Homo sapiens: one gene and its partners. The protein of the gene in region 1 purifies or fractionates together with the protein of each later gene. This does not show direct contact. Each region holds a gene or a part of one and is shown in the gene's direction. Other genes may lie near its edges.

Evidence for each region. Proteins that work in one complex are often made in the same cells at the same time.
Region 2: the proteins of ITPR3 (region 1) and HSPA12A purify together in Homo sapiens (affinity purification with mass spectrometry; one large-scale study listed by BioGRID and IntAct). This does not show direct contact.
Region 3: the proteins of ITPR3 (region 1) and MYOF purify together in Homo sapiens (affinity purification with western blotting, with the first as the bait; one study listed by BioGRID). This does not show direct contact.

The regions. Positions count from the first base shown.
Region 1 is NC_000006.12:33,680,322-33,683,993, forward strand, and holds part of ITPR3 (inositol 1,4,5-trisphosphate-gated calcium channel ITPR3), read left to right. Parts: intron 1-7; coding exon 8-133; intron 134-233; coding exon 234-359; intron 360-2,202; coding exon 2,203-2,323; intron 2,324-2,885; coding exon 2,886-3,076; intron 3,077-3,672.
Region 2 is NC_000010.11:116,697,567-116,701,238, reverse strand, and holds part of HSPA12A (heat shock 70 kDa protein 12A), read left to right. Parts: intron 1-109; coding exon 110-296; intron 297-2,499; coding exon 2,500-2,604; intron 2,605-3,672. UniProt on the Homo sapiens protein: Adapter protein for SORL1, but not SORT1. Delays SORL1 internalization and affects SORL1 subcellular localization.
Region 3 is NC_000010.11:93,308,632-93,311,506, reverse strand, and holds part of MYOF (myoferlin), read left to right. Parts: intron 1-863; coding exon 864-973; intron 974-1,339; coding exon 1,340-1,487; intron 1,488-2,875. UniProt on the Homo sapiens protein: Calcium/phospholipid-binding protein that plays a role in the plasmalemma repair mechanism of endothelial cells that permits rapid resealing of membranes disrupted by mechanical stress. Involved in endocytic recycling.

The DNA.
Region 1 (3,672 bases):
TGCCCAGGTGAAAATGGCCTATGTGAACTTCGTGAACCACTGCTACGTGGACACGGAGGTGGAGATGAAGGAGATCTACACCAGCAACCACATCTGGACGCTCTTTGAGAACTTCACCCTGGACATGGCCCGGGTCTGTCCCTGTGAGGGGTGTGGGTGAAGCCCCCCAGGAGGTGTGGGAGTGGAGGGGCCCCATGTGAGGAGCCCCCAGCCATCCCTCTCTCCTGCCTCAGGTCTGCAGCAAGCGTGAGAAGCGCGTGGCTGACCCCACCTTGGAGAAGTACGTGCTGAGCGTTGTGCTGGACACCATCAACGCCTTCTTCAGCTCCCCATTCTCTGAGAACAGCACTTCCCTGCAGGTGAGCTTCTCCTCTCCCACCACCCCAGGGCCGACTTGCCTAGCTTTTGTGAAGGGAAGGGGGGAAATAAGAATACATATTTATATTTGCTTATAGTACAGAAAGAAGTAACAAAAGGATACATAAGTGTATTGGTTATCTTTTTTTTTTTTTTTTTTGAGATGGAGTTTCACTCTGTCGCCCAGGCTGGAGTGCAGTGGCGCGATCTCTGCTTACTGCAAGCTCTGCCTCCTGGGTTCACGCCATTCTCCTGCCTCAGCCTCCCGAGTAGCTGGGACTACAGGTGCCCGCCACCACGCCCAGCTAATTTTTGCATTTTTAGTAGAGACAGGGTTTCACCGTGTTAGCCAGGATGGTCTCAATCTCCTGACCTCATGATCCGCCCACCTCGGCTTCCCAAAGTGCTGGGATTACAGGTGTGAACCACCGCGCCCGGCCTAAGTATATTAGTTATCTATACCGTGTTAACAAATTATCCCCAAACCTAGCAGTTAAAACAACAAGCATTCGCTATCTCAGTTTCTGTGGGCCAGAATGACGGTGGGAATGGTACCATCCAGCAGGAACTCCTAACTCCAGTGGGTGGGCGGATCCCGGAGTGGCAGCACTTATTCACCAAAGATAAGGCAGACGTGCCATCCATGGGATGGTACAGCCAAAGCAGGGATCACGACAGTCTCCCTGGCAGGATCCTTCGTGCTGGCTAGTTGATCATAGTGATCTTAGAACTGAAATAGGCAGGCAGCCTTCTGAAGGCCTAAGCAGAAGGGCTCCAGGCCAGTGTACAGAAGCCTGATTTGAATCTCGAAAGATTCATGGCTCCTTGGTCAATCCCCAGATTCCCAGACTCGAGCCAGTGCTCAGCCCAGAGCCCCCCTGAATGAAAGCGAGCCAGGTTCCCTTAAGGAAGGGCCCTGCTACATGACCGAAATCAAAGAAACACTGGAAGGATACAAAAGAAACCCACAAAAGGGGCTACCTAGGGGCATAGGAGCTGGGGTGGGGTGGGATCGTGCTTCTAAGTCTGGGGGGAAAAATGCTGAGTCCTGCCTTCTCAGGAAGGGTGGTGTATTTTGACACACATTGTTTGGGCCCTGGGATCGCATTGGGACGATGGAACTCTGGTAATTGATATCAGCTTTCCCCATCCTTGATCAGCTCCAGGGCAATGAGGGTGATGGGGGAGAGACTTCTCAAAGTGTTATGTTTTTTTTTTTTGAGACGGAGTCTCACTTGGTGCCCCAGGCTAGAGTGCAGTAGCACAACCTTGGCTCACTTGCAACCCCTGCCTCCCAGGTTCAAGCAATTCTCCAGCCTCAGCCTCCTGAGTAGCTGGGATTATAGGCACCCGCCACCACGCCCGGCTAATTTTTGTATTTTTAGTAGAGACAGGGTTTCACCATGTTGGCCAGGCTGGTCTCGAACTCCTGACCGCAAGTCATCCACCCACCTTGGCCTCCCAAAGTGCTGACATTACACGTGTGAGCCACTGCGCCCAGCCTCAAAGTGTTATCTTTTAAATAACCTTTTGGTTTTTCAACCATGTAAATCCATCACCTTTTTATGACATTAATTTTTTTAAACATTTTTTAAAAGGGTCAGCAACATGGCTATGAGCCCACGGCCTTGGTGAGTTACAGGGCTGCCGTGTACAGTTGGGCAGGTCGTGCACTGCTGAAGGGAATACAAGTACCTTTTTCCAACTGGCACAGAGGCACATGGTGGCTAGTGAAGGCTCCGTCTCTCCACCCATGCCCATTCTGATTGGGCCCTGGTTCCTGGACCTGGGGTTGCCCAGGGTGGGGGCCTGGGCTGCAGCAGCGGGCTCTGTGACTTCTTGCAGACACACCAGACGATTGTGGTGCAGCTGCTGCAGTCTACCACACGCCTCCTCGAGTGTCCGTGGCTACAGCAGCAGCACAAGGGCTCCGTGGAGGCCTGCATCCGGACCCTCGCCATGGTGGGTGAGTGTGCCGGGGCACTGGCCAGCCCCAAACCACTCCTCCTGCCGCTCACAGTGGGGACGCCTGCCCTCCTAATAAACACTTTATCCCTAAGCTCGCCCATCTCCTGCTCCCAGGTGGTTGTCAGTAAGTTCTTCTTGGCGTCTGCCTCATCCTGGCAATTGAGAGAAGCTGTTTTCTCCTCTGGGTCAGTTCCCCAGAGAAGGATGCTCGCCGACATTCTCCAGCTAGTTTTTTATGGGTATTTGCAGATGGGCTCAGGCAGGAGCAGGCCTGTGGATTGTTAGGGACAGTTGGGGAAGAAGAGAGGACAGGTGAGAGAGAGGAAGGGGAAGTCAGGGTAGAGCCGGGGGGAATCAAAGAGGCAGAAACTCCTTTTACCCAACAAGGGGAAGAAAGCCTCTCAGTCCCTCAAGCATAGGCCGGGGTGGGGGGGGTCTCTGTCTCCCAGACCCTTGGTCTAGTTCACTCTGTCTCCTGGTGTGGCAGCCCTGAGCCTGGCCTCTGGCTGGCTGAACTGCCCCCGCACCAGCACTCCAGCACTCCCTCCCTTCCCACCCAGCCAAGGGCCGGGCCATCTTGCTGCCCATGGACCTGGATGCCCACATCAGCTCGATGCTCAGCAGTGGAGCCAGCTGTGCAGCTGCCGCCCAGCGGAACGCCTCCAGCTACAAGGCAACCACGCGGGCCTTCCCCCGCGTCACCCCCACCGCCAACCAGTGGGACTACAAGAACATCATTGAGAAGCTGCAGGTGGGTGTGGGGCTGCCTGGCATCTGCCTCGGGAGCTGCTTGGTTGAGTCAGCAGCTCCCCTACTTTGGAGGGGCAAGTTCTCGGGGAGTGTTTCTTCCTGTCCTGCCCACACTTCCAGGAAGGGGCTGGTTGGCTTCTCTACACTCTGGGGCTGCTAAGGGCCGACCCAGCAGCAAGGGACTGGGGAACCTCCTTCCAGAGGAAGCCTGGAGAACCCAGAGGCCTGCTAGTGGGGTTGGAGCTCATGAGGGGGTCGGGACCACCCCTCACTCCTGCAGCGCCCTCCTGTCTATGCAGCACATTTCTGTGCGCTGTCTCGTTGGCCTGTAGAGGGGGTGTGGTGGATTATTTTCCCCACGTGGCAGGAGACTGAGGCTCAGAGAGGCTAAGGGGTTTGCCCAAGGTCACACAGAGCTGGGAGAGAAGCCAGGCTTGGCAGCTCCCAGCCAGGGCTCTGAGCAGACAGACATCACGCTGTGTTCAGGGTGTCTCTGTGGGTGTGGGCCCCTCAGACAGAGGCAGGGCAATCTGTGGGGCTGTTTGGCGTTTGGGTCGGAGGAATGGCAGTCACACCCGGGTCATTTCTTGGGCCTGG
Region 2 (3,672 bases), on another chromosome or scaffold:
GGGCACCCACATTACTGACACTCATGCATACAGTAGGTGTTCAAATCTGTGCTGCCTGAATTGGGATTTTGAAAGAAGGCCCCATAACTTCTGCTTCCCTTGGTGGCAGGCGATGGGAGGGAGGTGACCCTGGTGTGTCCAATCAGAAGACTCCAACCACCATCTTGCTGACTCCCGAGAGGAAGTTCCACAGCTTCGGGTATGCCGCCAGGGACTTTTACCATGACCTGGATCCCAATGAGGCCAAGCAGTGGCTGTACCTGGAGAAGTTCAAGATGAAGCTGCACACCACTGGGGTGAGCAAGCCTCTCCCCTGGGCCCAGGTCCCCCGCAATGGAGTGCCAAGCTTCCTCCAGCCTTGGGGTGGGGAAGGGATGTCCTCCCAACCCAGGGGGCCCTCTGGTCTCTTCCAAGCAGAAATCAGTGTCCATTTACCTTGATTTTAGACACAACCTGGAGCACACAGTGCTTTTGTGGAATATGCGATGCTTTCCAATGTGCATGTGGGCAGGGAGATATTCTGAATATTTAACAACTCGTTTGTCTTGGAAATGGACCTATCAGAGTAGACCCTGGTTATACCAGGGAAGTGGGGTGCTGGGGCCCTCCTGCTGTGCCAGGAGTTCTCCCTTTAGTTTCTGGATTATTGAGAGATCAGTGTATCATGAAGGATCCACTTGGGGGCTAGGGACACATGGCGAGCTCAGGGCAGTAGCTCTTAACTAACCAGTTTGGATGTAACAACCAGTAACAACTGGTACATCCAGCTCTTTATGTGGGGAGGGGGAGCTCAGGACATCAAGTGCCCAATAATTGGAGGTCCAACTCCCTGAGTGGTGTCCTCAGCTCCCAGCAAGCCAGTGTTCCATAAGACACCTACATCAAACAGGCACCCCCTGCCACCCCGAAGCTTCGTAGAAAAGGATAGGGCATAGGACAGAACTTTTTTGAGTTAAGCATTTTATTCCATAAAGTTTCCTTAACTGTCAGTGCTTAGAAAGGCAGGATGATGATGATGTTTAAGAACACGGACTCTGGGGCCAGATGGCCTGGGTTTCAATCTGGTCACTGGTACCTTTGAGAAATGTAATCCAAGTTATGTAACCCCTCCCTGCCTTGTTTTATCTTCTCTGTCAAATGGAGACAATAGCAGTGCCTTCCTCATGGGGATTTTGTAGGGATTAAAGGAATCAAAATACGTAAAGCTCTTAGAGCCATGCCTGGTGCAGATTAAGTTCTAGTCAAGTGCAAGCTCCTATTCTAATTGCTTTCATTTGTCTGCTGAGCACTTGCAGATGACAAAGCAAACATAAGTGGGAAACTCAGCAGCCAGCACCCTGCCTTTCAAGGCTCTGTGCCCATCGGCGTGGTTGTCCTTCTATGGTGCAGACCAAGTTCTGCTAGAAATGAACTGTTCCTATTTTGCCTAATGGGATTCAATGCTGAGTATCAGGATGGCAGGTGGAAGGAAGCACAGGGATTTTTTTCAATTCAGAGCCATGGTTTCCTGGCACTTGACCACCTTTCTGAGCCTGGGAGCTGCTGCCCTAAAGCTGGGGTATCTTTGTTGGGCACCAGGAGCAGAAGGCAGCTGGCTGGGAGGAGTGAGCAAGTGCAGATAGGTCAGGATGCCACAGACGGGCTCCACATGGCTAGCTTAGTAACTCAATGCCCGTTTTCACTCCCAAGGCAAAGCATAATTACCCAGCCTGGGACAATCTGGAGGCCCCAGTGATTTTTTTCCCCCTGGCAGTAATGAGTTTGTTGGTTCAGGAGACCTGGGGGCTTCCTCCTGATTTTTGCTCTCACTCCCTGCCCATCCCTACCCCACAGGGACTTTTCTCATCATTTTTTAATGATCTCCGTCCACCAGCATCTAGGCTCTGCAGAGCATCCTCTCTCTGGGACCACACTCAGCAGCTGCTTTCACTTTTGGTGGAGAGAGGAAAGCAGTGATGCTGGGCTCCTGGCGGATTAGATAGGGCAAGCCTTAAAATAGGAGCTCTTCTATTTTGGTGACTTGGTTGGCAGCGTAATGGGGAATGAAAGCTTCGTCTGTTTAGCATCGTGGATGGCAGTGGGTTGGTACGATTAGGCCTCCATCAGGGGGGATCCTGAGCGTGACCATGTGTGTTCGAATGTGGAAATTGTACGGAAATTGCATGGGGAGTGGCACCTGCTGCCTATTCTCTCTTCCTGACTTCTACTGTTGCCCCTGAAACCTTTGCTCCCAGAGGATCCAGGAGCTAGAGGGAGAGAAGGAGGGAGCAGTGAAGGTGGGGCCTGGAGGGGACAGCCAGAGCCTCCTACACAGTAAGGGGACACTGCTGCCAGCCCCCATTTTGGGGGATGCGCCATCCTAGTCTGCCTCTTTAAGCATGGGGGAACACAGACATGGCTCACCAGGATCCTCTAGGTCCCCTTGGAGCAGTCCCCAAAGCCAGGAGACATGTTTCTCCTGTGTCATCTTCTTACTATTGTTCCTCTTCCTCCTACCAGGACCTCACCATGGATACAGACCTGACGGCAGCAAATGGCAAGAAAGTCAAAGCCCTTGAAATCTTTGCTTATGCCCTGCAGTACTTTAAGGAGCAGGCGCTGAAGGTAGGACTGATAGTTGAGGCCAGCCAGCTGTGTGCTAGGCGGTGGCACCCGTGCCAGCTCCGTGTCTCGGGCTGCTGCACCTGCTGGCCAGGGTAGGAGGCACAGCCTGGAGGGAGAGTGTGGGCTTTGGAGTCAACACAACAGGATGAACCCTCACACGCTGCTGGTGGGAAAGTAAAATGGTGCGGCCTCTTTGGAAAACAGTTTGGCAATTCCTAAAAAAGTAAAGCACAGAGTTACCGTAGGACCCAGCAGCTCCACTCCTGGGTGGAGAAATGAAAGAAATCCCTAAGAGAAATGAAAGAAGAAATGAAATCCCTAAGAGAAATGAAATCCCTAAGAGAAATGAAAGAAGATGTCCACACACACGTATACATGAATGTGCATAGCAACATTATTCATAACTGTGAAAAGTAGAAACAGTCCACATGCTGTCCACACAAACACACGTATACATGAATGTGCATAGCAACATTATTCACAACGACGAAAATCGGAAAAAATCCACATGCCCATCCACTGATGAATGGAGAAACAAAATGTGATCTATCTTACAATGAATGTTATTCAGCCAGAAACAAAATGTGATCTATCTTACAATGAATGTTATTCATCAGTAGGATGAACTACTGATACATCCTACCACATGGAGAAACCTTGAAAACGCCATGTGAAGTGAAAGAAGCCAGATACAGATAGCCACATAGCATGTGATTCCAGTTCTATGAAATGTCCAGAACAGGCACCTTCACAGAAACAGAAAGCAGAGACTTTTTCTGCGCAGGGCTGCAGGGAGTGGGAATAGGAGCGACTGCTGAAGGATATGAGTTTCTTTGAGGAGTGATGAAATTAGGTAATGGGGTTGGGCGCACAACCTTGTGAATATACGAAAACCCACTGAACTACACACTTTATAACTGGGAATTTTATGGTATGGAAATTATATCTGAGTAAAACAAAAAGAGAGGCAGGAAACATACTTAGCAGCTGTGCCATTTTGGTCAAGGTACTTAATCTTTCCAAGATCCACTTTCCTAACTGGAGAGTGGGGTGGGTAACTGTACCTCA
Region 3 (2,875 bases), on another chromosome or scaffold:
TGGGACTACAGGCGCACGCCACCATGCTGGCTAATTTTTTTTTTTTTTTTTGTATTTTTAGTAGAGATGGGGTTTCGCCATGTTGGCCAGGCTGGTCTTGAACTCCTGACCTCAGGTGATCCTCCCGCCTCAGCCTCCCAAAGCACTGGGATTACAGGCATAAGCCACTGCGCCCAGCCAAAAGTGGGCAAGTTTCTAGACCACTTTCACTTTGGCCTCACTGTTCTCATTTGCACATGAGGACAATAATAGTACCTTTGTAGGGTTGCCATGAGCATTACATGAGATAACCCATGTAGAACATTTAAACGGTGCTGGGAACATCACTCAGGAACCCGTGAGCAGGGAGAAAACATTCATTCACTCACTCATTCATTCATTTATTGAGCTAGTGTACATGGAGTACCTACTGAATGCCAGCCACTGTGCACAGTAGGTGACAATGATTGATAGGCATGAAGAGATATGGCTCTGTTCTCTTACTGGGAGCCTACAATAATGCTCAATAAATGTTAGATATTGTTATTAGTGGTATTCAGGTTAGTCTGGGTCCAAGTGAAGTTACATAGGAAGGTGTGTGGGGAGACAAGGAGACCAATGTGAGAATGTTAGAGTGAGGGGGATACAGAAAATGAAAAGTAGGGAGTGGGGGAAGCAATTTGTCCTCAAAGTTTCCCACACAGAGTCAGTTCAGAAACACATGGAAGAGGAAATGGGATGAAATCTCTTGAGGAAAACTGAAGGCAATCTAAGGATTGTTTTACAAGAATAAAAATCATTGCTCGGGGAATACTCCTTGGGTTGAAGTAAAAATATTTGTGAAACATGATGTCATATGTTTAACCTGCTCTGCTTTACTGAAGGGGAAAGTGGAGATGACATTGGAAATCCTCAACGAGAAGGAGGCCGACGAGAGGCCAGCCGGGAAGGGGCGGGACGAACCCAACATGAACCCCAAGCTGGACTTACCAAAGTGAGAGGCCTTCTTTGTTCTCCCACTCCCCAAACACCTGCAGGCTGAGAGCCCCCCTTCCCATTGGCTTAATGGGATGGATTAGCTTTTGTGGTCCTCCTAATCTGGTATTTAATAGTGGTGGGTGGGGGTGGAGAGGTTGGTGATCTGGCTTCATTTTAAGAATTCTCCTTTCCAGGAAACCAAAGTTCAGCATCTTAGGAAGCTGTCGTAGGTTAAAGAGCCTTTCTCAGTCAACGAAGGGGAACAGTATTTTTTCTTGACCTTATTAATGTGATTCTTTATTCCTGAAACTGTGTTATGCTCTGGAATAAAATATGCATCCCTCCTGAGTTGGGTAGGTGATACTGTTTCTTTGCAATGCAGTCGACCAGAAACCTCCTTCCTCTGGTTCACCAACCCATGCAAGACCATGAAGTTCATCGTGTGGCGCCGCTTTAAGTGGGTCATCATCGGCTTGCTGTTCCTGCTTATCCTGCTGCTCTTCGTGGCCGTGCTCCTCTACTCTTTGCCGGTAGGAGCCCTTCCTTGGCCCCTTGTCTTGGCTTTCTTGTGAGTTGCAGTTGGTCCTCTCCCTTGGCATCTGCCCTGACCACTGTGCAGAAGAATGACCCGCTCAGCAGCATGGGGTTGTAACCCTTCTGCTTTGGGGAAATTTAAAGTAATGTGTCTTGTAATTAGAATCACATTCTCAGGGTTTCACAAATTACGGGCAGAACTTTTCTTTATGATCTGAAAATAACTTTGGTTTCAGGAATTCTAGGAGAAATCACTCAGGTCTCGGTCAGTGTGTGTCTGGACTATGGCCAGCGTTTCCAGCTGATCTTCCTGCCTTCAGACTTTCTTGTTCCAAACCATCCTGCATCCTAATTCCTTGTCCTAGCTTCAAGAATCCCCAAATCTGGGTTCATTGTGGGTCTACATATACCTTGTGTTCCACCCAAACTAGATCATTGATCCCAACCTCCCCAAATATTATTGCCCTTACCTATCTGGATGCCTTTGCCAATTTTGTTTCTCTGTCCACATTTATCTATCAAAACCTCACTCATTTTTTAAGGCTCATGTCACGTATAACCTCCCCCTTAAATGTTCCCCTAATCACCCCAGTCATAAACGGGAGTCCAAGTGGGAGATTTGGCAGCTTGCCTAGAAGTAGTACCTCCCTTCCTCCATCCAGAGGATGTATTGCGCATCTACGACAGGCTAGGAATTAAGTTATAGTGATGATTAAATTATTGGCATGATTTGTGCCCAAGAGCAGTTCATATTCTGGGAACAGGCAGCCACGGGAACAAGGACACATGACTAAGGGAGGTGAGCTGTTATGGAGACAGAAACAAACAACCGTGGGCACCCCCTGCTAAGACAGTTCCTCCAAGGAGGGGACATTCAAGTTTGCCAAGTGGAGAAGGGATAGTCCAGGCAGAGGAAGCCATGCTCAGAAGTTGGGCCAGTGGCACTGAATGTCACAGGAGACATTCAAAAGCTCTTACTCCAAAAACACATTAATAATAATATCAGCTGGGCGAGGTGGCTCATGCCTGTAATCCTGGCACTTTGGGAGGCCGAGGCGGGTGAATCACTTGAGGTCAGGAGTTCAAGACTAGCCTGGCCAACATAGCGAAACCCCGTCTCTACTAAAAATACAAAAATTAGTTGGGTGTGGTGGCACATGCCTGTAATCCCAGCTACTAGGGATGCTAAGATAGGATAATTGCTTGAACCTGGGAGGCGGAGGTTGCAGTGAGCTGAGACCACACCACTGCACTCCAACCTGGATGAAGAAGTGAGACTCTGTCTCAAAAAAATAGTATCGTAGCCATACAAGCAGCAGGGGTTTTGTGTCTTCATTTTTCCCCAGTATAGTACTTCTAGTTTGTCATCTATGAGTATATGTAC